7 separate regions of the Homo sapiens genome follow, and all the other regions are linked to region 1. The links come from fine-mapping of genetic effects on plasma protein levels. A gene starts in region 1. Each other region holds a variant in brackets. All regions are shown on one strand. Distances are between the middles of the regions.

Region 1 (4,073 bases):
GATGCACACCTTCTGCACCATCAGATTCTGTGCTTTGAAAAGGGCCAACTACACTGACAACCTGTATCTATGATACTGGACATGGGGTAAGTTCCTTTTGTAAAATTGATTGGCACTTGACACATCTAGAACTGATGTGACTTAATTCTGCAACTTTAATAGTAAAAGAATGACACTTTCTACCCTGCTTTCTAAGAGAGAAGGATGTTTGCCAAGGGCTTCACAGCCATCTTCCCACCAGAAGGAAATAGCCTTTCTGGGAATAGAACTGGTAGAGAAGAATGCAGGTAAGAGACAGGAGGAAACAAACAACTTAGACCCAGAGAAAACAGTTTAAAACACACCTGAAATTAATTCTTCCCACGGACTCTTCAACTATGGTAGTAACCAACTCTGTCCTAGTTTAAGTCCTTTTAAGTTGGCTTATATCTAAGCTTGTCTTGGTAGAAGTCATTAGGAAAGTTTAGTGACTCAATCCCTTGAAAAGAAGAAAAGATTGATTAATTTTATGATATTATAATCCTTCTATTATGTAATAATTAAGTCAGTGAATGTAATATAATCAATTTTTTTGTGATATAAGCCCCTCATATACATACCTTATATTACAGCAAGAATTAATACAATTGACACATTTTACAAAGGAGTGAATAACTTCCAATGCTAAGTCACTCATCTAGATCTATAGAGAAAAGCAGTGTTATAATTTTTGTTTGTTGGACTCTAGAGTCTGTGTTTTTTCATTATGCCTGCTGAAAACAAAATATAGTATAACTTCTCTACTGGTATAAAATAAACATGAACAATATGCAATCAAAAACTCAATGGTGTAACTGCACAAATACTTCTCTCCCATCCCTATCTCTTCTTAATTTCTTGCCAAAGCAGCATTTTATTTTTTAAGCATTCATTCTAGAAAGGCCTCCAGGTGATTTAGAAATAGAAGTCTCATGACACCCCAAGAAAGATGATGTGCTGTAGGTTTACATGAGGAAGGGCGTAGCCAAACCAAGGCATAAGATAAATAAGTCCCTTCATTGAAACTAGGAAAAAAAATAGTTGTCAAGTGATGCACACAAATGTAGATGATTATCTTTCCAGTGGAACATAGAATTTCTGCATCACTGAGAAGAGTATGTTTTTTACACTGTAGCTGTACTTGGAAGGTATCAGATACTGTAGCTGAAGTGGCATAATTTTTAAGCATACTGGGGTTTGTGGCACATGTAATACAACATTCTTTGTTTGGGAAGCAGCTTCCCAGTATGTTTGAGTTATATCAGGCTAATTCTAGTAGAACTTCGATTTTGCATACATTTTCCAGGGCTATTATGCGTTTTTAGCTTTTCTATATCCTCAAATGACATGAAATTGCCTTAATGAGGCTAATTAAACAAGTGGAGACTGAGTATGCTCAAGTGTCTTTGAAAATTTTGGGTCATATTTGGGAGGCTTTTACGTAGTGTTGTATTTTAGTTAAGGAAAATAAACCTTTTTCATGAACGTGCAGATTATGTATCATTTCTCTTAGTATTTGGCTCATGGGCTTTCTTAGAGGCATAATATCCTAATATTCAAGACCAGCACCCTCAGGAGAATAATCGAATTTGAATATAATTAGAACAGTTCACAACTTAGGAAACACTGGGGAGGAAATGATGATATAGGAAGCTGACTTGAATTGGTAATGCCTTTAGGAAGCAAACACAGAGGCTGAAGCCTTATTCTGGACAGTTACTCTTAAGAAAGTTGTCAGAAGAAACGCATCTGCCTTTTTTTCCAGGTGAACTGCCGTGAGTTGTCCAGCATGATAGTGTTTATTTTCTTGGGTAAGTGAATGGTGCTTCTGGTTTATCTGAATTATTCATAATACTAATTCTTTGTAAACTGAATACCATCACACTTAAGCTTAACAGGGGCTTATAATATGAAGTACCAAGTAAATTACAAATTTATGCTTTAACATGGTTTATTCTTCTTGCAAAAATGTACACTCACTTTTACTCACTTATTTCTAACTCTATAGATAATGCAGCATGTGAAAATTGTATTAATCTCTCAGCTTGTTTCTGTTTTATTGTATAGAATGACCCAATGACTTTGAGTTACTTATTAGGATTAATGGAATTCACACATGTGTTAGAACCTTTTAGAAATAAAAATAAAACCTTCCAGTATCTATTTACAAGTTATAAGATGAAAAATTTCAAACTGTTATCTATTTTATTTATTTTGCTTTGAAATTAAACAAAAATAAGATTAATTTAAAACATTCAATTTACCTACAGTGTTAATATTTGCTAACTAGAAGTAATTTAGTGAAGTAAAACCACTTAACACCATATCAGAATGCTTCATATTTTCATTAATTTTTATGACCTAGAACTCAAGTGTGGACTTACTTCTCTTGTATTGGATCCGATGAATGTATTATAAGATGTTGATGAAAAATAATTTATTTTTATTTAATGTAGAATCCATGAATCTATTTGCTAGATGTGTGACTGGAGAATATTTTATATCTTCTTTAGCATTTGGTAGAATCTATAAACTGAATTCAGAAAAGGAATAATTGTAACTGTAGCTAGATTGTAATTTTAAAAATATGGCATTTTATGTTTAAGCTAATATATACTTGAATAAAGGCATAATTATGGGCCAGAAAGCAAAGAAGTTTACTTTAAATTGTATCGAACATAAAAGGAGAGTCATATCAAGTCAAGGAAACAAGTTAAGAAGGAGAGAAATCCCTTATATTTTCAGTTTTTCTTTTGTTTAAGTAATATTTTTCCATTGTTCCATAATTTTGCTTTTTGTAATTATTCCTAAAATATTTTCTTATTTTTATAAAGATTGTTAATATTTCTTTAGTTCTTTTTTGTGATAAAGAGAAATATAGGAAACTTTAATTTTTATAGATCAGGCAGCAATATAATGAAGCTCACAAAATACATTACAGACTCATTATGACCTCAGTTGAAAAGGCAATGGCCTCTTATTTTCATCTTTTACTTCTAAATTAACTTGACACCAGGTTGCATGAAGGAGGGAAATAACTTCTTAACATTGTTAGAACTAAAATTATACTATTTGATATGTTGTACCAACATTTCCCATATTATATTTTTTAGAATGCTTGTTTGACATTATCTAAATAGGTCTTATAATGAGGAAAATGTCTGTTGGTAAAGAAATGTGGAAAACAATGAATTTTAAAATCTCAGAACATTTAGTAGGATAATAAGCCCCATACATCTTTAAAACACTGATATAATTTGCAGCATTATCCATCTTATTAATTTAAAAATAGAAGTTATTTTTCATTGAGTATTACAGGAAAATTCTTGAAAAATCCTAGGTTAAATACAAAACCACAAGTCATAGTTTGGAATGAATAAGACAGATTTTGGAGAGGTAATACATTCTTGATTCTTGTGGACCAAATCATTGAGGTGGTTTTCTTAGTTGAGTCAATATTTTGTTGAGTAGGAAGTGTGGAAAATCCTATAAAATAATCTATTAAGAAGCTTGTTCAACCAAAAACTGAAAATGTGAAAGGAAGTAAAACATTAAAAACTGAAAATGTGAAAGGAAGTAAAACATATTTGGGGAAGACAACATGTAGTATTTCTAAGTGATTATTACTCTGAAGTACTGATGAAGTTTTGATGATATATCTGGGATATTATCACTTATAAGATTCTTGAAGGGGCTTTTCACAAGATATAATGATTAATGGCAAATAAAATACCATTTTCTTATAAGTTGAGTTTATGACTTCAAATTTCTATTTCTGGGTCTTTGGAAAACTGGATTTGACCAAGTAAATTTGTGCTAGGATCAAAAGAGTCCTCTTTTTCTTTCTTTGGGCTAGCCAAATAAGGAGTACAAGGGCTTGGCTAGATGAGGTTGTCCATGAACACATGAGAAAACAGAAAGCTGATATGTCCATTTCCACTCCAGCCCTCAGCAAGAAAAATGTTACCAAGCTACACCCATGGGCCTAATCTCCAAATGCAGTGACCCAGCAAGTAGTACACATGGTCCAATCAGTTGTCTTGGATTCTTCTTAT
Region 2 (4,073 bases), 180 kb after region 1:
GTTAGAATATTTTAGGGTTTTCTTTTAAAGAAAATGGCATAACCTCCTTCAGCAATTCATCCTTGGAAAAGTTGCCACGTAAAATATTTAAACATATGTGGGGCTAGACATTTGCTTAAAATTTTGTAATCTCCACAATAAATCCATTTCACCAATGGAAAACCTGAGCCTCAAGTAAATTAAATAGGTTGCAGAATACAAATAGAGTAAACTGCTGAACTAGGCTTTAAAACCAAACTGTCTGTCCAACTTGAAGGCTGGGTCTTTCTACTACATCAGTTGAGCTGTTTACAATGAGAAAGCTTCCTGTGTCAAGCTCAGATTCCCACACTAACTACAAGCTCAGACCCGGGAAGCCAGACATAGAGACTGGTTCAGACTGACTTTTAAATTATCTTTACCTTGATCTTATTTTCTGCCATACCTTTTGAAACTTTCTATACCTTTTTGCTCTATTTGTCTTTCCACTCTAATTGATAAACTACTTCATTTGATCCTTTGTGTTTTTTCCTCTTAAAATGATGAATCCTTGGAGTAATTTTTAATTAAAAGGCCTCAGCCCCACCCAGAGCCACGTGGAAAAAGTGTTAAGAGTCCCATACTGGTAGAGTAGCCTTCCCTTATCTAAGGTTTTACTTTCTGCAGTCTTAGTTACATGCAGTCAACCATGGTCTGAAAATATGAAATGGAAAATTCCAGAATAAACAATTCATAAGCTTAAAATTGTGGGCCACTCTGAATAACATGATGAAATCTCATACCATGCTGTTTGAGATGTGACTCTTCCCTTTGACCAGCATATCCATGCTGTAGATGCACCCATCCCATTAGTCACTTAATGGTTCTCTCAGTTATGAGATCAACTGTATCTCAGTGCTTGTGTTTAAGTAACACTTATTTTACTTAATGATGGACCCAAAGCCCAAAAATAGTGAGGTTGGCAACTTGGATACACCAAAAAGAATCTGCAAAGTGCTTCCTTTAAGTAAAATGGGGAAAGTTTTCAACTTAAAAAGAAAAAAAAAATATTGTATGATGAAGTTGCTAACATCTATGGTAAGAATATAAAACTCCTATCAATAGAATTGTGAAGGAAAAAATAAATTCATGCTGGCTTTGCTGTCGTACCTCAAACTACAAAAATCACAGCCACAGCATGTGATAAGCTCTTAGTTAAGATGGGAAAGACATTAAATTTGTGTGTGGAAGACATGAACAGAAAACATGTTCTGACTGAGGACCATGTGTTGTACCAGAAAGCATTGAACCTGTAAGACTTCAGCAAGGGATCTCCTGAAACTGGTGACCCCAAGCCATTACTGCAGGTAAAGGACATTTCACAGATTCAGGAATAGGTTTGGACTCAAACATACAAAAATTACTGAAGAGGCTATATCTGTGGGTTAAACTTTATTATACATATGTATGTAAAGGATAAAAAGAGTATACATAGGGTTTGTTATAATACTATCGACAGTTTCAGGCATCCACTGGGGTCTTGGAATACATCTCCTGCAGACAAGGGGGACTACTCTAAGTATCCTTTGGGACAATTCTAAATGGGACCTGCATGGCAGACTCCCTGTTTCCCCAGCCCTCAAACTAAACCCAACTCAATATCTGAATATGTTCCCAATGATCTGGGCTGGACACTTCAGGTAATACTTCATGTTCCATTTATGATGACTTATATTGTTTGTTTTTTAGAAGAGATTTGTAAAATAGTCTGTCTTTTTAAATAGCATGATTATGTACAAAATATTATTTTATTCAACAAATTAAACCAATGTAGTTTCAGAGACTTTTCTCAGAGTTCTGTATGTCCTGGCTTTTGACTCTGTCTCCAGCCAAGCTCTCAAATTTTTAATGATCCACTTAAATCTCTGAGACCTGAAACTTACATCACTGTGCAATTTGTTCTCTTATGTTCAATATGAAAGACATTTCATTTCATAGCTCCCACA[T/C]TATATTTTATTTTGTAAACTTCAACAGCATGTCTGCTTTTGAAAACAATTAAAAAAAGCATCAATGTTAAATTCAACTACTAGAAACCAAACTAATCTTGCCTTTTTCATATAGTGCTAAAACTTTAATTGCCACCTTTTTTTTTGGCCTACCCACTCAAAATATTTAGCTTCTAGGGTTTCTGTCCAGTTGATTGATGAGTGAAGAAGTGAGAATTTCAGAGCACTGGCCACATGAAATGACAGGTGAAAAAGGGATTCCAAAGATCAGTAAATGTGAGAAACTCAGTCCAACACAACAGCCATCTTCCAGCCCTAGTTTAAAGAAGTCCTATATTTGGAGGGCCTGGTTAACAAGGATAACCATGTTTAGTCCAGGTGTCCACAAATTTTTGAACCATGAATTCTCCCCTTACCTCTACCTCCACTACTACTGTTTTAATTTTAATGTAACCCTACTAAACATGTTGAGTAATGCTTTCAGAGAATCTGGTTAGATATTTCCAAGGTAAAGCTCTGAGATTGACTCATTTCAATCCCTAATTACATTTTTAAAATAAATTTTTGATTCAATTTTGAATTAATTGAAGAATGCCTAAGATTATGTTTTCTGCTGAATTATATTGAAAAAGTTAAATAAGATTAGAAATAAATTTATCGAATACTTATTATTTCCAAACTTTATTCAGAGTACTTCTTCCAGGTATTCTGTGTTCTAATTTCATATGAATAGTGTTTCTAAATAAAAGTAAATTTGTAAACACTTTTCAGGAATTCATAGTAAAGTTAATCTCATGATAAAAACTTCTAAATGTTCATTTTTCTATTTAATATGTTGCACAACTCTCTTTTCATACTTATTAAATTCACTTTGTTATATCCTTGTTTCACATTGACATATATAATAAAAGAAAAAGCATGTTAAAAATAATTTTAAATTATTGTAAGTGACTGTATGGACTATAAACATATACCATTCAACCACAATCCGTGCTGAATTAATTTCACACCTTAGGGACACCACTAACTTTCTTGAAATTACTTGTGTAAATTAAAATTCTACTTCTTGCCCAGGTATGGCAAGGTATAATCCAGCAAAAGAATATTTAATAATGAAAAAGTATTAATGCTAATTTCATGAGAAATGATTAAACATATTCTTACCTCAAAATGTCTAAATGAAGGCTATTTAGACACAACTGCACAAACCCAGCTTACAAATATTAACTGCTGCTGGGTATGTGTTGTTCTGGCACACAGCAGTGCCAGAATAATATATAAAGCTTAAAAAGTACAAACCCTTAAACAAACCATATGTATGAAAGAAAATAGCTTTCACAGATGTCTTATTTTTAGAGTTTTATGTCCCATATTTTGGTGGTACATAATGATGATTGAATTGTTCTTCCAGACCTAGGCCTCAGTTGAACAATAGAATTTGGAAAGGAACTTCTGTGGGCAGCTTCTTGCTGCCCACTTACAAGAATATGATGCTATAAATGCAAGTGTTCCATAGAGGTAGATCATCCAATGGAAAGGATTTGATGCTGTCATAAGAAATGCTAGCTACTAGTCACAGTGTACTTAAAAATGGAGCCCTAAATAAGGAGACTCATTATCTCACTCAACAAGACTGCTATTATCTTCAGGGTCAGGATCTGAGTCCATACTGAGATTCTACATTAGACAAGGAGAAGAGGAAAGACACACTCAATGCAACGTGACCTAGGTGGTTTGGCTAATTCAGCAAGTAGGTTGCAAGTTTTTGAATAAATGTGTGTAGTTATAAATTATCTCTCAAAGGGGGAAACAACAGTGTTTTAAAGGAGAATACTGTGCCCTGACTTCATGGCACGTGGGAAGATTGCCATTTCAAAGGATGAGAATTATATAGAGCTGAATCAGTTAAAAAAAATAATTAAACACAGGAAGAATTTCCTAACATTGAGGATCTTTCATCAAAGGAATTCTTCACGATTGTATGTAATGCAATCCCTTTTGGAAGCATTTAAGACCAAATTAAGTTTTCCCTGTTTTTGCATAAGAAGAAAGTCAATAGTGAGAAAAATAGTAGACGAAGAGATGGACAAAATGAACACCCTAGATTCA
Region 3 (4,073 bases), 290 kb after region 1:
GTGCATCCTTGCAATTCCCCTTCTAGAGAGCTCCATGCCCTAGGGAAACAAATGCACATATGCCCAAGAATATATGTACAAGTAGGTCCACAGCAGGATGGCTCATAATTGTTCAATGTGTGAACCAACCCAAATATCCATCATAGGTAGAATGGATAAATAAATTATGCTATGTTCATACAATGGAACATTACACAGCAATAAAAAAACATAGTTATAAGGAACGTGGATTTTTATAACTATAATATACACATGAAGCAAGTTCGAAATAATGCATGTAGTATGATTGCATTTATATAAAGACCAAAATTTAGTCAAGTGAAATCATGATTTTTAGGAATGCATGCATAGGTGATGAAACTATAATATAGTGTAAAACAAGGAAGTAATTATAATAAAAATCAGGATAATGGGAAGGGAGGATGTTATAATTGGTAAGAGACATACTGGAAACGTCTGGGGTCTGGTAATGTTCTATTGCTTGACCTGGGAGATATTATGTGGGCATTTGTATTATAATTAGCTGTTAATTGTACATTTATATTTTATTTACTCTTCTGTATGTATGTTGTAGTTCACCAAAAAAAGTAAAAAAAAAAAGTGACCTTTTGAACAAATGGTGGCCTATAGAGCAAATCATTAATAAAATTATTCTCTAGTGGACTTCTAGTAAGAAAGAAAAAAGAGAAAATAAATTTTGAGAATGTATTTGGATATGAATAATAAACATGTCAGAGAGAACAAATAGAGAAGAAATTATCAAAAAAATAATTCAATGTATTTTTAGAAGTTAGGAACATGAATTTCCATATTACAGCACAACAGTTTTAAAAAGGCCAACACAGGTACTATGATTTGTAAACTTAGAATTCTAGAAACAAAGACAATATCTTAAGAGCTTACAGAGAGAAGAGGAAAAGAAAAGAAAGAGTCTATATGCAAAGTATCTGCAGTAAGTATGTTATAAGATTGTTAAAAGTAACTTTTTAGTTACATTATTAGCAATTTTGTTAACTAAGAGATTTTACTGAAATTTAAAAGCTAAAAATCATTGAAAGTTAAAAAGAACCAAAAGCTAAACACCTTAAACATTCTAAAAGGAAATGATTCTCAACTAAAATTTTACACCTAGTGAACTTAGTTATCAAGTGTGAGAGGAGACTAATGACATTTTCAGGCATGTGAGATTTTAAAGTGTTTACTGTTCATGCAACTTTTCTTAGGAAGTTACTAAAGGAGGTGTTTGCTCCAAACACAAGAAAAAACAAAAGGAGGAAAAACACGGATTTCAGGAAACAATGGACCCATCCCTGGATGGTAGAAATTGTCAGCAGGCCTCCAGAGCAAGCAGGCAAAACTGGGGTGGGAAGAGGGAGAGGTCAAAGATAGGGATCAAAAAGAAGATGAAGTTGGTAGGCTATCAGATGGATGAATTTGGAACATGTGCAGGGGCATGAAAAAGAACTTTCATGTTTGGTCTGTGCACTCATGTGTTACGAAGTTGAATACATGTGAAATTGTAGTGAAAAAAAATTATATAAAAAAATCAGGCTGTAAAAGCATTAAATTCACATTCCTCATAAAATGGCATCTAAATACGATTTTGTTTTTACCATAAACTGTTTCTGCAGAGTTAATAAGACTACTGATTCTAATGCCTTTTCGCATATTTCAAATTCATAATGAAATAACAATAGTGGCACATGGGAGGGGGGTTCTGTTGACTACTTATATTTAAAATTAGTCAATTATATTTATTTGGTTCTTCAACAAACCAAGAAGTTAATAAATACTTATTTTCCAAAAAAAATTAATTGTTATGGGTATGTGGTAGGTGTATATATTTATGGGGTATGTGAGATATTTTGATACAGGCGTACTATGTATAATAATCACATCAGGGAAAATAGGGTACTTATCCCAAGCATTTATCACTTCTTTCTATTATAAACATTCCAATTATACTCTTTAAGTCATTTTTAAATGAACTATAAATTATTGTTATCTCCAGTCACTCTGTTGTGCTATCAAATAGT[A/G]GATCTTACTCATTCTATTTAACTATATTTAGGTACACATTAACCATGCCCACACCGCCCCCGCTCCACTACCCATCCCAGCCTCCATTCTACTCTCTATCTCCATGAGTTCAATTGCCTAAATTTTTAGTTCCCACAAATATTAAGAACATGTGAGGTTTGTCTTTCTGTGCCTGGCTTATATCGCTTAACATAATGACTTCCATTTCCATCCATGTTGTTGTAAACAACGGGATCTTATTCTTTTTTCTGAGAGTACTCCATTGTGTATAAGTACCTCCTTTTTTTATTATCCATTCATTTGTTGATGGACACTTAGGTTGCTTCCAAATCTTGAGCATTGTGAATAGTGCTGCAGTAAACATAGGAGTACAGATATTCCCATGTTTGATACACTGATATTTTTTTCTCTTTTGGCAATATACCTATCAGTGGAATTGCTGGATCATATGGTGGTTCTACTTTTAGTTTTTTGAGGAACCTCCATACTCTTCTCCACAGTGGCTGTACTAATTTACATTCCCACCAACAGTGTACCAGGGTTCCCTTTTCTCCATATATTTGCCAGCATTTATTATTTCCTGTCTTTTGGATAGAAGCCATTTTAACTGGGATGAGATTATATTTCTTTGTAGCTTTCATTTTCATTTCTCTGATAATCAATAATGTTGAGCACTTCTTCGTATATGTTTACCTTTTATATCTTCTTTTGAGAAATGCCTATTTGAGCCTTTTGTACATTTTTACTTGGATTATTATGATTTTCTTTGCTTATAGAAGCATTTTAACTTAAAATATCCCATTTGTCCATTTTTATTTTGATTTCCTGTGCTTTTGGGGTGTTACACACACACACACACACAGACACACAGACACACACACACACACACAATTTGCCCAGACTAATGTACTGGAAAGTTTCTCCAATGTTTTCTTTTAGTAGTTTTATGATTTCAGGTCTCAGATTTAAATTTTTAATCCATTTTGATTTGATTTTTGTTTTGTTTTGATTTGATTTTTATATGTATAAAGAAGTCTAGTTTTATTCTTCTCCATATGGTTGTCCAGCTTTCCCAGCACCATTTATTGATGAAGCTGTCCTTTCTCCAATGTTTGTTCTTGATACCTTTGCTGAAAATGAATTCACTATAGATGTGTAAGTTTATCTCTGTGTTCCATGTGCTTTTCCATTGGTCTATAGGTCTGTTTTTATGCCACTACCATGCTGTTTTGGTTACTAGAACTCTGCAGTATAATTTGAACTCAGGTAATGTGATTCTTCCAGTTTTATTCTTTTTGCTCAGGATGGCTTTTGCTATTCTGGGTCTTCTGTGGTTCCATATAAATTTAAGAATTTGTTTTCTATTTCTGTGAAAGAATGTCATTGGTCTTTTGATAGAGATTGCACTGAATCTGTAGATGGCCTTGGGTATTATGGACATTTTAACAACATTGATTATTCCAATACTTTAACATGAAAGTGTTTTCATTTTTGGTATTCTTTTCAGTTTCTTGCATGACTGTTTTATAGTAGGGGCTCCCCAAACCCTGGGCTATGGATGGGAGCCATGGCCTGTTAGAAACTGGGCAACACAACGGGTGGTGAGTGGTGGGTGAGTGAGCAAAGATTCATCTGTATTTATAGCTGCTCCCCATTGCTCACATTACCGCCTGAGCTCCAACTCCTGTCAGATCAGCAGCAGCATTAGATTCTCATAGTACCATGAACCCTACTGTGACCTGCCCATGTGAGCAATCTAGGTTGCGTGCTCCTTATGAGACTCTAATGCCTGATGATCTGTCATTGTCTCCCATCACCTCCAGATGGGACCATCTAGTTGCAGGAAAACAAGCTCAGTGCTCCGACTGTTTCTACATTATGGTGAGTTACATAATTATTTCATTACATATTACAGTATAATAATAACAGAAATAAAGTACACAATAAATGTACTGTTCTTTAATCATCCCAAAACCATTCCCCTCACACCAGTCCATCATCGTTATATTCCAGGTCTTAGAGGACAGGCTTTCATC
Region 4 (4,073 bases), 340 kb after region 1:
AGCCAGGAAACACTCACAATCTTTTATTTTTTTTTTTCAAAAGTTTGGGCTCCTGCACATCATGTTCTTAAACAGACTAGGTTGTAAAACTCATGAGTTTCCATTGACCTTTGCCCGGCCTTCTTAACTTTGAAGAGCATTGTATCTTGTGTTTGAAAAGAAGCATAAGTGGGTTTCCAGTAGAGATATTCCAGATTCTAATTACCTTCTAAGTCCACCACATACAAGAAGGTGGACAATATTTAGCATTGAGAAGCCCTTTAATTTATGAATCACTTGCAAAGAGTGCATCACAAATCACAAAATATTCATTGGTTGTAACAAGTAATTTTCATTCTACTCAACATTGAAGATACTTTTGATTATCTTAGAGGGCAAAAATAAATGACTCTATTTTATTGACATATTAAAAATTAATAATACTAAGCATAGCTGAAGTTACCAAGTGTGTACTATGTACCAGGGTTTACATTTACCTCATTTAATCCTCTCAGTAATTCTATAGGATTGGAACGGATATTATCACCCTCATTTCAAAGATAAGAATCCTGGATGCAGAGAAGCTAAGTAATTTATCCAAGCCTACTCAGCTAATAAGTGACAAGAAACGGTACAAAGGAGGCTTTTTCACATCAGAGTCTGTGTTCTGTACTCTACACATTAAGACATAAATACTTCAGAGGGAAAGAAGCCAGTTTGTGCTTTGTTGGTGGTGGTGGTGATTTGTTTATAGCACAGAATCATAAAAAGGAAACATATATAACATTATAAATTCTAAGCACAACTGGAGAGAACATTATCTATAAAATATTTTCCTTATCTACCAATGTTCAATGCCACAATCAAAACACGTAAAATACCTGTTAATTTTACTAAACTTTCTAGGAATATGAACAGATGAATGCTTTTCCTAGCATAATAGATCACATATTGTTAGTAAATAAATCAGGACCGGCATTTCTTATACAATATACACTAAATGCAACAGACTTTTTTTTTTATTTTTTGATTTTTAAGTTGTTTTATGTTTTTTATGTTTCTTGGTTGCCCAATACCTTTTGAATGCCCTGACTATGCTTGGGGAATTTTCCTCCATGAAGTAGAGCCCAGAGAATTCACTTCTATGGCACACTGTCACTGTTAAAAATATAAGTACATGACTTGGATTGTACAAATTAAACTCACCTATGAGACACTTTCATTTAGATGTGAGTGACTTGAGCAAGAAGGCATTTCGGGCTAAAATGGATGTTTGAGTTCTGGCTTTGGAGATGGAATCACTGCTGACAGCATGGCTGTTGTGAGAAAGCTGAGTTTCTGGCAAATGCCAACTTTGTTCTTGTAGCAGGTGTTCCCTGATCCAGCAGGATCTGTGACAGGGTTAACAGAATTGTCCCTAAAATATAGCCTTCCGGCTAGTTCTTAACACTCTCAAAACTTCTGTAAATTACCCAATAACCTTTTAAAAGCTTTTCTTCTTTATCAGCCAGAGTCAGCTTCTATTGCTTATGTTTAAGAACTGTAAGTTAGGGGCTCTGGTTCTGGGTAAAATAAAGTAAACACATCACATCCCATCCCATCTCTCTCACTTTACGTAACTATAAAACCTAGGCAGATTGAATGTACTGGACTATGAGGAGTCTGAAAAGGAAATAGCAATATGTGGATAAAGAAAAGATACCAGAATTCTAATCACCACTAAGCCTGTGGTGAGTTTACATTTTTTTCCTTTAATATCCTTGACCTGAACTCAAGGC[A/C]GCCAAAAACCCGGAAGTGAACATTGTGTTAAAGAGCGAGCTTTAAGAGAAGCCTGGCTCAGGGAACAGGGAAGGAAACTGCCAGATCTCAGAGAAAGTAGAGGAAATCAGCCAAGTGGTTATTTTTCTTTCATTTTTCCTGTATTCGCTCATGACTTATCCCCCAGGCAATTCACTGGTACCACAGCAGCAGCACCAGTAGTGGCCAGCAACAGGAATCAGTAGGGTATACAACTCCAGGGAGGGAAACCTTCCTTTCCACTTGGTAGAGCTGTGTCTTCAAAAGGGTGAGGACTAACCCATTTCTTTTTTCCTCTTCTCCCTGTCCTCCTACCACATGGCCTCAGACTTCGCACAGTAATAGAAGTGGACAATTTCTGGCCAAAGTACCAACAACTAGAGCCTGTGGAAACCAGAAAGTTCCAAGAAAACAGTAGAGAAGGAGGAATTAAAAAAAAAAAAAAAGAAATGTTTTATTAATTCCTGGAGTCACTGTCAACCTGAACATGCCTGGATCTATCATTAGTAGCATACAAAAGTTTCGCCAACTGAATAAATGGATCAATTTCCTTCCAGGTCCCACATGGAACAGTGAATGATGTACACATGAAACAAATTTGAATAACACTGCAACAACTTTGGCAATTAAACTGACTTTGGAAACAGCTTACAAAAGCTGGGTTGATACATGTAGTCTGAGCCAAACCAGTCAATTGCCTGCTGAACTAAAAAACATCAACTTTCTCCATGAGATTTAAACAAGACTCAGCCCCACAATATTCAAAATGCCCAGTATGTAATCCAAAATTACTTGGATTATGAAGAAAAAAATAATCTAAAATTACATGGTAAAATACAATCAATAGACACCAATAACAAGATAACACAGATGAAAAAGGCTTTAAAATACCTATTATAAGAATGTTCAAAAAAGCCATCACGAAGTCTTGAAACAAATATTAAGCTACAAAGTATCAGCAAATAAATAAAAGAGGCAAAGAAGAATCAAATGGAAGTTTTTGAAATGAAAAATTCAATAACCCAAATTAAAGGCTCACTGGATAGATTAAAAAGCAGAATGAAAACGACAGAGGAAAGAGCCAAAACACTTGAAGGTAGATCAATAGAAATTGTCTAATCTTAAAAGGTAGAAGAAAGATTTTTAAAAAATGAACAGAGCCTCAAGGAAATGTGGAGCAACAGCAAATATTTAACAATGATGTTGTTGAAGTCCCGGGAGAGAACAGACTCTAGAGGTTTAAAAATGTGAAAAAGTAACAGCTAAAAATGTTCTAAATTTGGTGGAAAACATATGACCACAGATTTAGGAAGTTAAATTACAAATAGAATCAATCCTAAGAAATTCACATTCAGATTCATCATAATGACAATACTGAAGACTATATACAAAGAAAAATTCTTGAAAATGGTCACACACTCAAAAAGACACATGACCCTATAGGAGCAGAAATATGTGAATGACTATGGAGTTCTTATTATAAGCCATGGAGGTCAGACAGGTGTCACAAAATATTTTTCTTCAGCCTGGAAAGAGAACTGTCATTCCAGAATTCTATCTCCAAAAAAAATATCCTTCCATAATGAAAGAGAAATAAAGATATTCTCAGATGAAGGAAAACTAAGATAATTCAATGCCAGCAGGCCTGCTATTTAATAAAGAATTGTTAAAAAAAAGTACTTCAGACAAAACAGAAATTATACCAGAAGAAAATACCATGAATAAACAAGTAACAACAAAATGGTAAACATCTGAGTTATGTTACATTTTTATTCCATTTGAGGTCTATTAAATATATTCGATGCTTGAAAGCAAAGAACATAACATTGTTAGGATTGTCAATATATGTAGATGTAATGAATAAGATACCTACATCATAAAGGGGGAATGTAAAGGAATTTATATAGTTATGTTTCCATATTCCTACTGAAGTGGTAAAATACAAATTCTTAATAGACTGTTAATAGTTTAGTATGGATTTATAATCCTTGGGCAACCACTATAAAACATTGTAAAAAGATACATTATGAAAATTACAAATGGAAGGCAGAAAAGGGGAAACATATAAAAAAAGTAGGAACCAACAGAAAGTAAATAATAAAATCACTTGCTAATAAACAAATAATTGCATTGTATATAATTGCAACATCAATAATTGCATTATATGTAAATAATCTAAACAAACAAATTGCAACAGAGATTATGAGTGAATACAAAGCATGACCCAACCAAACTCACTTCAAATATAATGATAAGGACAGATTAAAAGTAAAGGAAATCAAAGAAAGCTATAGTAG
Region 5 (4,073 bases), 27 kb after region 1:
AATTGTTGGCAGCAGATGCTGGGTGCTTATGAGCGACAGCAAGATGGTGTCAGGTAAGATGGCCATTTTGAGCTGCTGAAGTCCTACTCTCTTTATGGCCACAGAGTCCTCTTGAGAGGACCGATAGTGGAAGAGTATGCTTGTTTATGTCCTTATTTGGTTGGATGCAGTATTGTTTATTTAGCAAAATATTTTGTCCCTGTTGGAAAAGTACCGTATGAAATCTAAGATGGAGTCTTTTTTGGAGTTACTTATGTCAAGGATGCTCTATACAAGTAGGATTTGGACATCCCTAGCACACATGTATGCTATGACCATAGAAATGTATTCATTCTCCTCTTTCTAACCTCACACCTTTAATTATTGGGGGAGTAATGTTAGTCGTTTATTTATTAATTCAAAAAAAATTTATCAAGCACCTACTACTACTCTAGGCAATGGCGAATAAGGAAAACAAATGCCTATGGATCTTATAGTCCAGAGAGAAGACAGATATTAAATTAAAAATGTATGTGTTGTTTTAAGGCAAACAACACTAGGCAAACAGTAGATACTGAGAGAGGAGATATTAAGCAAACTGACCAGCCAGTGCTTAGGAAAACATGTATGTGGCATTTTAGAAAAGCAGTGAGGGTAGAGTGTGCAAAGGGGAGAGAAATAGGAGCGAGATAAGAGAGTTAATTGAGTGGGTGTGAACAGGCCTATATCATATGAGGGCTTGAAGGACACTGCCTAGGGCTTCGGACATGTAGGTGGCTTAGTGTGTGATTTGTCATATTTGTCCCCTTGTTTCAACTACTGGCAAAAAAACACAAAAAGTAATGATATCAACTTCCTGAAGGTTCTTAGTAAAATTCTCTCTTTTAGCTTTTTAACTATGTCTACTCTTATTTTCAGTCACTCTAACTGGCAAAGTAGTTCCAGATCTTGTAAACATTTGTTAAAAAGAACTGCTTCCCTATAGCACACATTCTATGAAATAAGTGGTAAAGAGCTAAGCAGAGTCCTAGAGCATTGACATATTTCGTCAACTTATAGGATATCAAGGTTCTTAAAATTGTATTCAAGAATTTTTCATGCAAATGTGTCAGTTATTTTAAGGCTTATTATTTATTTTTCTTGAGTGAATAAGGCATTGACAAAATACTTTTTATAATGCAATTTAGGTTTTTCAAACTCATTTATCATCTCAAAAATCCTTATTAGAGAAATACTACATTTCATTGATTCTAAGATGCAATTTCTTTTTACACATTTTAACATCTCTGACATATTTTAAATAAATTTTTAAGGTCAATAACAAAGACATTTGTCATAATTTAAGTTCCAGCAGGTGTTTTTTGTTGTTATTGTTGTTGTACATAAAATAATGGTATCTTCTGAAATCAATGAAATATGAAATCAATGAAATATCAAACACATGTGATTACACTACTTTTCTCACCTCAAATGAACTAAAACTATTACTATTCTGCCTTTCTAACTATCATATTCCTACATCAACAATGAAACCTAATAATATTTTAACCAGCCAGGGCCAGGGGCACCATGGTTTCAATAGCAAAATCACTATAAAAATATCAGATTTATTCACAGATGGGTACCCAGCTTTGCCTGATTCCAGTGCCAGGGCTTTCGATATGCTATCTAATTATCTGGAAGCCATTAGCATTCAACCTTCAAAGCATGGTATTTCTGAGCATCCACATCAAAGAAAATATTTTAATAGCAAGTGGTGGCTCTGCTGCTATAGTCCTTGAGAATTCCTGTGATAGACTCTGAAGCACACACTCTTACACTAACCTCCCCTTGGTATCAACACCTTCTCAGATGGACTGGCACAGAGTTGATGATTTTCCTCAACAAGGACCCCCAGCTTTAACCACCTTTTCAAAATGTTTGGTGTGGGGTCTGGAGTGGGATAAGCACTCAAAAAACGTCATCTCCCTTCCTCTCACTTTTGAATATTGTACACTTAATTGTTATATTTTAGTATACATATATGTATTTCTTCTCATGTAATTTATTTCTTAGATTAGTTCAAGTGTAAGGACTGTGTGTCTTCAATTTCCTTTCACTATGTGCAAATAGTCCCTTAATCAGTACTTTATAGAGGTGATGGAAATGTTATATAATATTAGTAGTCAATGTGAAAAGACAAATCCTATCATTTTCCTGAGCACATTTTGCCTTAGGGAGATTTCCAGCTTTTATATTAAATTATTGTTAATGTAATTCAGATGAAAAACAAATCTCCAAATGGAAAACCACTTCTTCAAT[G/A]AGAATATTAAGCCCTTTATGATACTTATCTTTTTTGCAGAAGAGCCTGTACATAGGCAAAACAGGGCACTTCAGTTTTAAAATACAATTTCTGTCCCTGTTCCAAATTTTTCAATTCACGATGGGCTTTGAAATTCCTTTATTTTTTAACTGCCAAAGAGAACAATTTAAGGGCCATTTCTCAATTACCTTTCTCTAGTACCGACACCCTCAGGGAGGTGAGATTATGTCTTGCCAATTTCACAAAAGTCTGGGTATTTACAGAAAATTATAATACATTATATTTTTATATATTAACTTAAAAAAGTAATGACAAGGTATTTGCTTAGGAAATATTCTAAATACTTTTAAATATGTATGCATTATTTAATTGATTTAAAACAGATGACATCATATTATATACTTCTCTATATATTGTTTTTGTTTTTTTTCCCTAAATGTGGATTAAAGATCTTTCCATAATTGCATATAAGAAAATTCACACATCAGGGTCTGTTAGGGAGTCGGGGGCGAGGGGAGGGAACTTAGAGGACAGGTCAATAGGTGCAGCAAACAACCATGGCTCATGCGTACCTATGTAATAAACCTGCACGTTCTGCACATCTATCTCATTTTTCTTAGAATAAATTAAAAAAAAGAAAATTCTCAAATGTTTGAATGGCTATAGAGTATGCCATTGCATGGATGTAGCTTAATTAATTTGCTTAGTCTTTTTTGGACATTTAGACATATTCCAAGTATCTTATTTTATTTGTAGCTATTGTAAATGGGACTACTTTGAAGATTTGTTTTTCAGATTGCTTGCTGTTAGCATATAGAAATGCTACTGATTTTTGTATGTTAATTTTATATCTTGCAACTTTACTGAATTTGTTGATCAGTTCTAAGAGTTCCTTGGTGGAGTCTTTGGGTCTTTTCAAATATAAAATTATATAATCTGCAAACAAATTTTTCTACCTTTCTAATTTGGATGCCCCCCTTTTCTTTTCCTTCTCTTGTCTAATTGCTGGGCTAGGACTTCCAGCACTATGTTGAATAATAGTGATGAAAGTAGGCATCCTTGTCTCATTACAGATCATAGAGGAAAAGCTTTCAGTTTTTCCCCATTTTATATGATACTAGCTATTGGTCTGCTCTGTCATATATGGCATTTATTCTGTTGAGGTATATTCCTTCTATATCCTGGTTTTGAGGCTTTTATCATGAAGGAACGTAGAGAACTTTAGCAAATGCTTTTTCAGCATCAATTGAAAAGATCATGTTTTATGTCCTTCATTTTGTTGATATGATGTATCAAACTGATTGATTTTCATATATTGAACCATCCTTGTATCACTAGGATAAATCCCACGTGGTCATGATGAAAAATCTTAATGTGTTGTTGCATTTGGTTTGCTAGGATTTTGTTGAGGATTTTTGCATTAATGTTCTTCAGGAAAATTGTCCTGTAGTTTACTTTCCTTGGTATGTCTTGTCTGGTTTTGGTATTAGGGTGATACTGGCCTCAAAGAATGAGTTTGGAAGTATTCCCTCCTCTATTGTTGGAAATATTTTTAGTAGAATTGGTATTAGTTCCTCTCTAAGTGTTTGGTAAAATTCAGCATCATGTCCCAGGTTTTCCCTTGCTGGGAGACTTTCTATTATAGCTTCGATCTCATTACTTGTTATTGGTCTGTTCAGGATTTGGACTTCTTTATAGTTCAATCTTGGTAGGTTGTGTCTACAAATTTATTCACTTATCCATTTTAGATTTTCTGATGTATTGGCATATATTTGCTCATAGTAGGCTTCAA
Region 6 (4,073 bases), 360 kb after region 1:
TCACCAAAGTTGAAATGAAGAAAAAAATGTTAAGGGCAGCCAGAGAGAAAGGTCGGGTTACCCTCAAAGGGAAGCCCATCAGACTAACAGCGGATCTCTCAGCAGAAACTCTACAAGCCAGAAGAGAGTGGGGGCCAATATTCAACATTCTTAAAGAAAAGAATTTTCAACCCAGAAATTCATATCCAGCCAAACTAAGCTTCATAAGTGAAGGAGAAATAAAATACTTTACAGACAAGCAAATGCTGAGAGATTTTGTCACCACCAGGCCTGCCCTAAAAGAGCTCCTGAAGGAAGCGCTAAACATGGAAAGGAACAACCGGTACCAGCAGCTGCAAAATCATGCCAAATTGTAAAGACCATCGAGACTAGGAAGCAACTGCATCAACTAACGAGCAAAATAACCAGCTAACATCATAATGACAGGATCAAATTCACACATAACAATATTAACTTTAAAAGTAAATGGGCTAAATGCTCCAATTAAAAGACACAGACTGGCAAATTGGATAAACAGTCAAGACCCATCAGTGTGCTCTATTCAGGAAACCCATCTCACGTGCAGAAACACACATAGGCTCAAAATAAAAGGATGGAGGAAGATCTACCGAGCAAATGGAAAACAAAAAAAGGCAGGGGTTGCAATCCTAGTCTCTGATTAAACAGACTTTAAACCAACAAAGATCAAAAGAGACAAAGAAGGCCATTACATAATGGTAAAGGGATCAATTCAACAAGAAGAGCTAACTATCCTAAATATAGATGCACCCAATACAGGAGCACCCAGATTCATAAAGCAAGTCCTGAGTGACCTACAAAGAGACTTAGACTCCCACACATTAATAATGGGAGACTTTAACACCCCACTGTCAACATTAGACAGATCAATGAGACAGAAAGTCAACAAGGATACCCAGGAATTGAACTCAGCTCTGCACCAAGTGGACCTAATAGACATCTACAGAACTCTCCACCCCAAATCAACAGAATATACATTTTTTTCAGCACCACACCACACCTATTCCAAAATTGACCACATACTTGGAAGTAAAGCTCTCCTCAGCAAATGTAAAAGAACAGGAATTGTAACAAACTATCTCTCAGACCACAGTGCAATCAAACTAGAACTCAGGATTAAGAAACTCACTCAAAACCGCTCAGCTATATGGAAACTGAACAACCTGCTCCTGAATGACTACTGGGTACATAACGAAATGAAGGCAGAAATAAAGATGTTCTTTGAAACCAATGAGAACAAAGACGCAACATACCAGAATCTAAGGGATGCATTCAAAGCAGTGTGTAGATAGAAATTTATAGCACTAAATGCCCACAAGAGAAAGCAGGAAAGATCCAAAATTGACACCCTAACATCACAATTAAAAGAACTAGAAAAGCGAGAGCAAACACATTCAAAAGCTAGCAGAAGACAAGAAATAATGAAAAACAGAGCAGAACTGAAGGAAATAGAGACACAAAAAACCCTTCAAAAAATTAATGAATCCAGGAGCTGGTTTTCTGAAAAGATCAACAAAATTGATAGACCGCTAGCAAGACTAATAAAGAAAAAAAGAGAGAAGAATCAAATAGATGCAATAAAAAATGATATAGGGGATATCACCACCGTTCCCACAGAAATACAAACTACTATCAGAGAATACTACAAACACCTCTACGCAAATAAACTAGAAAATCTAGAAGAAATGGGTAAATTCCTCGACACATACACTCTCCCAAGACTAAACCAGGAAGATGTTGAATCTCTGAATAGACCAATAACAGGAGCTGAAATTGTGGCAATAATCAATAGCTTACCAACCAAAAGGAGTCCAGGACCAGATGGATTCACAGCCGAATTCTACCAGAGGTAGAAGGTGGAGCGGGTACCATTCCTTCTGAAACTATTCCAATCAATAGAAAAGGAGGGAATCCTCCCTAACTCATTTTATGAGGCCAGCATCATCCTGATACCAAAGCCAGGCAGAGACACAACCAAAAAAGAGAATTTTAGACTAATATCCTTGATGAACATTGATGCAAAAATCCTCAATAAAATACTGGCAAACCGAATCCAGCAGCACATCAAAAAGCTTATCCACCATGATCAAGTGGGCTTCATCCCTGGGATGCAAGGCTGGTTCAATATACGCAAATCAATAAATGTAATCCAGCATATAAACAGAACCAAAGACAAAAACCACATGATTATCTCAGTAGATGCAGAAAAGGCCTTTGACAAAATTCAACAAC[C/A]CTTCATGCTAAAAACTATAAATAAATTAGGTATTGATGGGACGTATTTCAAAATAATAAGAGCTATCTATGACAAACCCACAACCAACATCATACTGAATGGGCAAAAACTGGAAGCATTCCCTTTGAAAACTGGCACAAGACAGGGATGCCCTCTCTCACCACTCCTATTCAACATAGTGTTGGAAGTTCTGGCCAGGGCAATTAGGCAGGAGAAGGAAATAAAGGGTATTCAATTAGGAAAACAGGAAGTCAAATTGTCCCTGTTTGTAGACGACATGATTGTATATCTAGAAAACCCCATTGTCTCAGCCCAAAATCTCCTTAAGCTGATAAGCAACTTCAGCAAAGTCTCAGGATACAAAATCAGTGTACAAAAATCACAAGCATTCTTATACACCAACAACAGACAAACAGAGAGCCAAATCATGAGTGAACTCCCATTCACAATTGCTTCAAAGAGAATAAAATACCTAGGAATCCCACTTACAAGGGACGTGAAGGACCTCTTCAAGGAGAACTACAAACCACTTCTGAAGGAAATAAAAGAGGATACAAACAAATGGAAGAACATTCCATGCTCATGGGTAGGAAGAATCAATATCGTGAAAATGGCCATACTGTCCAAGGTAATTTACAGATTCAATGCCATCCCCATTAAGCTACCAATGACTTCCTTCACAGAATTGGAAAAAACTACTTTAAAGTTCATATGGAACCAAAAAAGGGCCCACATCCCCAAGTCAATCCTAAGCCAAAAGAACAAAGCTGGAGGAATCACACTACCTGACTTCAAACTATACTACAAGGCAATAGTAACCAAAACAGCATGGTACTGGTACCAAAACAGAGATATAGATCAATGGAACAGAACAGAGCCCTCAGAAATCACGCCGCTTATCTACAACTATCTGATCTTTGACAAACCTGACAAAAACAAGCAATGGGGAAAGGATTCCCTATTTAATAAATGGTGCTGGGAAAACTGGCTAGCCATATGTAGAAAGCTGAAACTGGATCCCTTCCTTACACCTTATACAAAAATCAATTCAAGATGGATTAAAGACTTACATGTTAGACCTGAAACCATAAAAACCCTAGAAGAAAACCTAGGCATTACCATTCAAGACATAGGCATGGGCAAGGACTTCATGTCTAAAACACCAAAAGCAATGGCAACAAAAGCCAAAATTGACAAATGGGATCTAATTAAACTAAAGAGCTTCTGCACAGCAAAAGAAACTACCATCAGAGTGAACAGGCAACCTACAAAATTGGAGAAAATTTTTGCAACCTACTCATCTGACAAAGGGCTAATATCCAGAATCTACAATGAACTCAAACAAATTTACAAGAAAAAAACAAACAACCCCATCAAAAATGGGCGAAGGATATGAAAAGACACTTCTCAAAAGAAGACATTTATGCGCCAAAAAACACATGAAAAATTGCTCACCATAACTGACCATCAGAGAAATGCAAATCAAAACCACAATGAGATACCATCTCACACCAGTTAGAATGGCAATCACTAAAAAGTCAGGAAACAACAGGTGCTGGAGAGGATGTGGAGAAATAGGAACACTTTTACACTGTTGGTGGGATTGTAAACTAGTTCAACCATTGTGGAAGTCAGTGTGGCGATTCCTCAGGGATCTAGAACTAGAAATACCATTTGACCCAGCCATGCCAGTACAGGGTATATACCCAAAGGACTATAAATCATGCTGCTATAAAGACACATGCACACGTATGTTTATTGTGGCATTACTCACAATAGCAAAGACTTGGAACCAACCTAAATGTCCAACAATGATAGACTG
Region 7 (4,073 bases), 18 kb after region 1:
ATCCAGTAACTGGTTTTTTGAAAAGATCAACAAAATTGACAGACTGCTAACAAGACTAATAAAGAAGAAAAAAGAGAAGAATCAAATAGAAGCAATAAAAAATGATAAAGGGGATATCACCATTTAATACAGAAATACATCCCACAGAAATACAAGCTACCATCAGAGAATAAACACCTCTACACAAATAAACCAGAAAATCAACAAGAAATGGATAAATTCCTGGATGCATACACTCTACCAAGACTAAACCAGGAAAAAGTTGAATCCCTGCATAGACCAATAACAAGCTCTGAAATTAAGGCAGTAATTAATAGCCTACCAACCAAAAAAAAAGTCCAGGACCAGATGGATTCACAGTTGAATTCTAGCAGAAATACAAACAGGAGCTGGTACCATTCCTTCTGAAACTATTCCAATCAATAGAAAAAGAGGGAATGCTCCCTAACTCATTTTATGAGACCAGCATCAACCTGATAACAAAGCCTGGCAAAGACACAACAAAAAAAGAGAATTTTAGACCAATATCCCTGATGAACATTGATGCAAAAATCCTCAATAAAATACTGGCAAACCGAATCCAGCAGCACATCAAAAAGCTTATCCACCATGATCAAGTGGGCTTCATCCCTGGGATTCAAGGCTGGTTCAAAGCATACGCAAATCAATAAACATAACCCAGCATATAAACAGAACCAAAGACAAAAACCACATGATCATCTCAATAGATGCAGAAAAGGCCTTTGACAAGATTAAACAACGCTTCATGCTAAAAACTCTCAATAAATTAGGTATTGATGGGATGTATCTCAAAATAATAAGAGCTATTTATGACAAACCCACAGTCAATATCATACTGGATGGGCAAAAACTGGAAGCATTCCCTTTGAAAACTGGCACAAGACAGGGATGCCCTCTCTCACCACTCCTATTCAACATAGTGTTGGAAGTTCTGGCCAGCGCAATCAGGCAGGAGAAAGAAATAAAGGGTATTCAATTAGGAAAAGAGAAAGTCAAATTGTCCCTGTTTGCAGATGACATGACTGTATATTTAGAAAATCCCATCATCTCAGCCCAAAATCTCCTTAAGCTGATAAGCAACTTCAGCAAAGTCTCAGGATACAAAATCAATGTGCAAAAATCACAAGCATTCCTATACACCAATAATAGACAAACAGAGAGCCAAATCATGAGTGAACTCCCATTCACAATTGTTTCAAAGAGAATAAAATACTTAGGAATCCAACTTACAAGGGATGTGAAGGACCTCTTCAAGGAGGACTACAAACCACTGCTGAACAGAATAAAAGAGGACACAAACAAATCGAAGAGCATTCCATGTTCATGGATAGGAAGAACCAATATCATGAAAATGGCCATACTGCCCAAGGTAATTTATAGATTCAATGCCATCCCCATCAAGCTACCAATGACTTCCTTCACAGAATTGGAAAAAACTACTTTAAAAAGTTCATATGGAACCAAAAAAGGGCCCGCATTGCCAAGACAATCCTAAGCCAAAAGAACAAAGCTGGAGGCATCTTGCTACCTGACTTCAAACTATACTACAAGGCAGTAGTAACCAAAACAGCATGGTACTGGTACCAAAACAGAGATATAGACTAATGGAACAGAACAGAGCCCTCAGAAATAATACCACACATCTACAACCATCTGATCTTTGACAAACCTGACAAAAACATGAAATCGGGAAAGGATTCCCTGTTGAATAACTGGTGCTGGGAAAACTGGCTAGCCATATGTGGAAAGCTGAAACTGGATTCCTTCCTTACACCTTATACAAAAATTAACTCAAGATGGATTAAAGACTTACATGTTAGACCTACAACCATAAAAACCCTAGAAGAAAACCTAGGCAATACCATTCAGGAGATAGGCACGGGCAAGGACTTCATGTCTAAAATACCAAAAACAATGGCAACAAAAGCCAAAATTGACAAATGGGATCTAATTAAACTAAAGAGCTTCTG[T/C]ACAGCAAAAGAAACTACCATCAGAGTGAACAGGCAACCTACAGAATGGGAGAAAATTTTTGCAATCTACCCATCTGACAAAGGGGTACTACCCAGAATCTACAAAGAACTCAAACAAATTTACAAGAAAAAAACAACCCCATCAAAAAGTGAGTGAAGGATATGAACAGACACTTCTCAAAAGAAGACATTTATGCAGCCAACTGACACATGAAAAAATGCTCACTATCACTGGCCATCAGAGAAATGCAAATCAAAACCACAATGAGATACCATCTCACACCAGTTAGAATGGCGATCATTAAAAAATCAGGAAACAACAGGTGCTGGAGAGGATGTGGAGAAATAGGAACACTTTTACACTGTTGGTGGGACTGTAAACTAGTTCAGCCATTGTGGAAGACAGTGTGGCGATTCCTCAGGGATCTAGAACTAGAAATACCATTTGACCCAACCATCCCATTACCAGGTATATACCCAAAGGATTACAAATCATGCTGCTATAAAGACACATGCACACGTATGTTTACTGCAACACTATTCACAATAGCAAAGACTTGGAACCAACCCAAATGTCCATCAATGATAGACTTGATTAAGGAAATGTGGCACATATACACCATGAAATACTATGCAGCCATAAAAAAGGATGAGTTCATGTCCTTTGTAGGGACATGGATGAAGCTGGAAACCATCATTCTCAGCAAACTATCCCAAAGACAAAAAAACCAAACACCGCATATTGTCACTCATAGGTGGGAATTGAACAATGAGAACACTTGGACACAGGGAGGGGAACATCACACACCGGGGCCTGTCGTGGGGTGGTAGGAGGGGGGAGGGATAGCATTAGGAGATATACCTAATGTAAATGATGAGTTAATGGATGCAGCACACCAACATGGCGCATGTATACATATGTAACCAACCTGCACGTTGTGCACATGTACCCTAGAACTTAAAGTATAAAAGTAAAAGAAAAAAAAAGTTGACCATATGTTGAGTCAAAGCAAATATCAACAAATTTCAAGACACTGAAATAATTAGAAACATGTAATTTTATCTTGGTGGAAATAACCTAGATATCAGTACAAAAAATAAACAAGAAATCCCCCCCCCCCAAAAAAAAGAAAAAACAAAGTAAGTGATGAAGAAAAATATCACCAAAAGAAATTGAACATTAACATTATGTGGTTCTATAACCTGTAATATTGGTGGTAATTAATTTTTTAATTTGTTGGGATGCTAGTTAAGTTGATAGTGTGACTTTTCTGTGAGAAAACAAAACAGTATAAATGAGCAGATAAACCACTCAGTAAAATTTTATAGGGTTGGAGTTTTATAGAGAATCACGGGAAAGTAAAAGAAGAAAGGACGAAAAGACAATAACAAGAAACTGTTCCTTTATCTGAATGGGTGAGTGATATAGGCTGGAAAGAGTCTATGAATCCAGGAGATGATGCTAAGATTGGGAGTGAATAAAAAGATGAAAGTTCTGGAGGTATATGTGCACATGAAATAATCAAGAATGTGAAGCTTTGGAAGCGAGTAAGATAAGTAATATTTGCAATTGAAAGAGAGAGAACTTCATGTCAATGTCAGGTCTAGAAGTCGATCATTGGTGTGGCATAGTTGGAGTGTCGGTGAAGGTCATAAGAGCTATGGTTAAGGAATTCTGAATTAAGGGTGGAAGATGGTTTTGTCCCAAAAGACATAGAGATAACTTAGCACAATGACAAGATCTGAGGTAGAGGAGAATATTGAGACAGTACCTGAGTCGATGCTGAATATCAGGGCAAGACTTTGAGGTTAATATTTGACAAAAGAAAAGAGGGAGGCACAACCCGACAGCATAAAATTCAAAGAAGGAGAAATGTTTTATAAGGATGAATAATTAATATTTTGGAAGCTACAAAGCTGGAAAAGTAGATATAAACACATTCTAATGATATCGTGGTATGATCTATATGGGAAATGGGTAGGATTCACTAGCAAGAGCTACAGGGAAGTGAGGCTAGAGAAAATCTAGGCTTCCCAGATATTACACTTTTCTATTTTTCTTCTTGCTTCCATGGGTGATTC

Which allele goes with the higher level. Alleles are on the strand shown, and positions count from the first base shown. The strength of an association depends on the size of the effect and on how common the allele is.
With allele C in place of T in region 2, the plasma level of the protein whose gene starts at base 1,722 in region 1 is lower (weak association).
For the plasma level of the protein whose gene starts at base 1,722 in region 1, allele G in region 3 goes with a higher level than allele A (strong association).
For the plasma level of the protein whose gene starts at base 1,722 in region 1, allele C in region 4 goes with a lower level than allele A (moderate association).
For the plasma level of the protein whose gene starts at base 1,722 in region 1, allele A in region 5 goes with a lower level than allele G (moderate association).
For the plasma level of the protein whose gene starts at base 1,722 in region 1, allele A in region 6 goes with a higher level than allele C (moderate association).
As copies of C replace T in region 7, the plasma level of the protein whose gene starts at base 1,722 in region 1 goes down (moderate association).

What was found. PIP is the posterior inclusion probability: the model's chance that the variant is causal. The UK Biobank Pharma Proteomics Project read protein levels with antibody pairs (Olink). The fine-mapping took linkage between variants from a reference panel, not from the people measured, so its PIPs are less certain.
Region 2: its variant is fine-mapped to the plasma level of the GFRAL protein (UK Biobank, PIP above 0.99).
Region 3: its variant is fine-mapped to the plasma level of the GFRAL protein (UK Biobank, PIP above 0.99).
Region 4: its variant is fine-mapped to the plasma level of the GFRAL protein (UK Biobank, PIP above 0.99).
Region 5: its variant is fine-mapped to the plasma level of the GFRAL protein (UK Biobank, PIP above 0.99).
Region 6: its variant is fine-mapped to the plasma level of the GFRAL protein (UK Biobank, PIP above 0.99).
Region 7: its variant is fine-mapped to the plasma level of the GFRAL protein (UK Biobank, PIP above 0.99).

What each region holds. Positions count from the first base shown.
Region 1 is chr6:55,325,748-55,329,820 of GRCh38, forward strand. GFRAL (GDNF family receptor alpha like) reads left to right here and starts at 1,722. Exons shown (of 9, transcript NM_207410.2): 1 at 1,722-1,829. The coding sequence starts at 1,808.
Region 2 is chr6:55,505,826-55,509,898 of GRCh38, forward strand. The region is part of intron 5 of HMGCLL1 (3-hydroxy-3-methylglutaryl-CoA lyase like 1); the gene reads right to left. Among named protein-coding and RNA genes, the nearest start is that of HMGCLL1, 71 kb to the right of the region's middle. The variant T/C (reference allele first, on the strand shown) is at 1,965.
Region 3 is chr6:55,617,747-55,621,819 of GRCh38, forward strand. It overlaps a transcript of HMGCLL1 not described here. Among named protein-coding and RNA genes, the nearest start is that of HMGCLL1, 41 kb to the left of the region's middle. The variant A/G (reference allele first, on the strand shown) is at 2,037.
Region 4 is chr6:55,666,909-55,670,981 of GRCh38, forward strand. It overlaps a transcript of HMGCLL1 not described here. Among named protein-coding and RNA genes, the nearest start is that of HMGCLL1, 90 kb to the left of the region's middle. The variant A/C (reference allele first, on the strand shown) is at 1,758.
Region 5 is chr6:55,352,447-55,356,519 of GRCh38, forward strand. The region is part of intron 5 of GFRAL (GDNF family receptor alpha like); the gene reads left to right. Among named protein-coding and RNA genes, the nearest start is that of GFRAL, 27 kb to the left of the region's middle. The variant G/A (reference allele first, on the strand shown) is at 2,281.
Region 6 is chr6:55,686,225-55,690,297 of GRCh38, forward strand. No RefSeq gene overlaps it. Among named protein-coding and RNA genes, the nearest start is that of HMGCLL1, 110 kb to the left of the region's middle. The variant C/A (reference allele first, on the strand shown) is at 2,251.
Region 7 is chr6:55,343,731-55,347,803 of GRCh38, forward strand. The region is part of intron 3 of GFRAL (GDNF family receptor alpha like); the gene reads left to right. Among named protein-coding and RNA genes, the nearest start is that of GFRAL, 18 kb to the left of the region's middle. The variant T/C (reference allele first, on the strand shown) is at 1,992.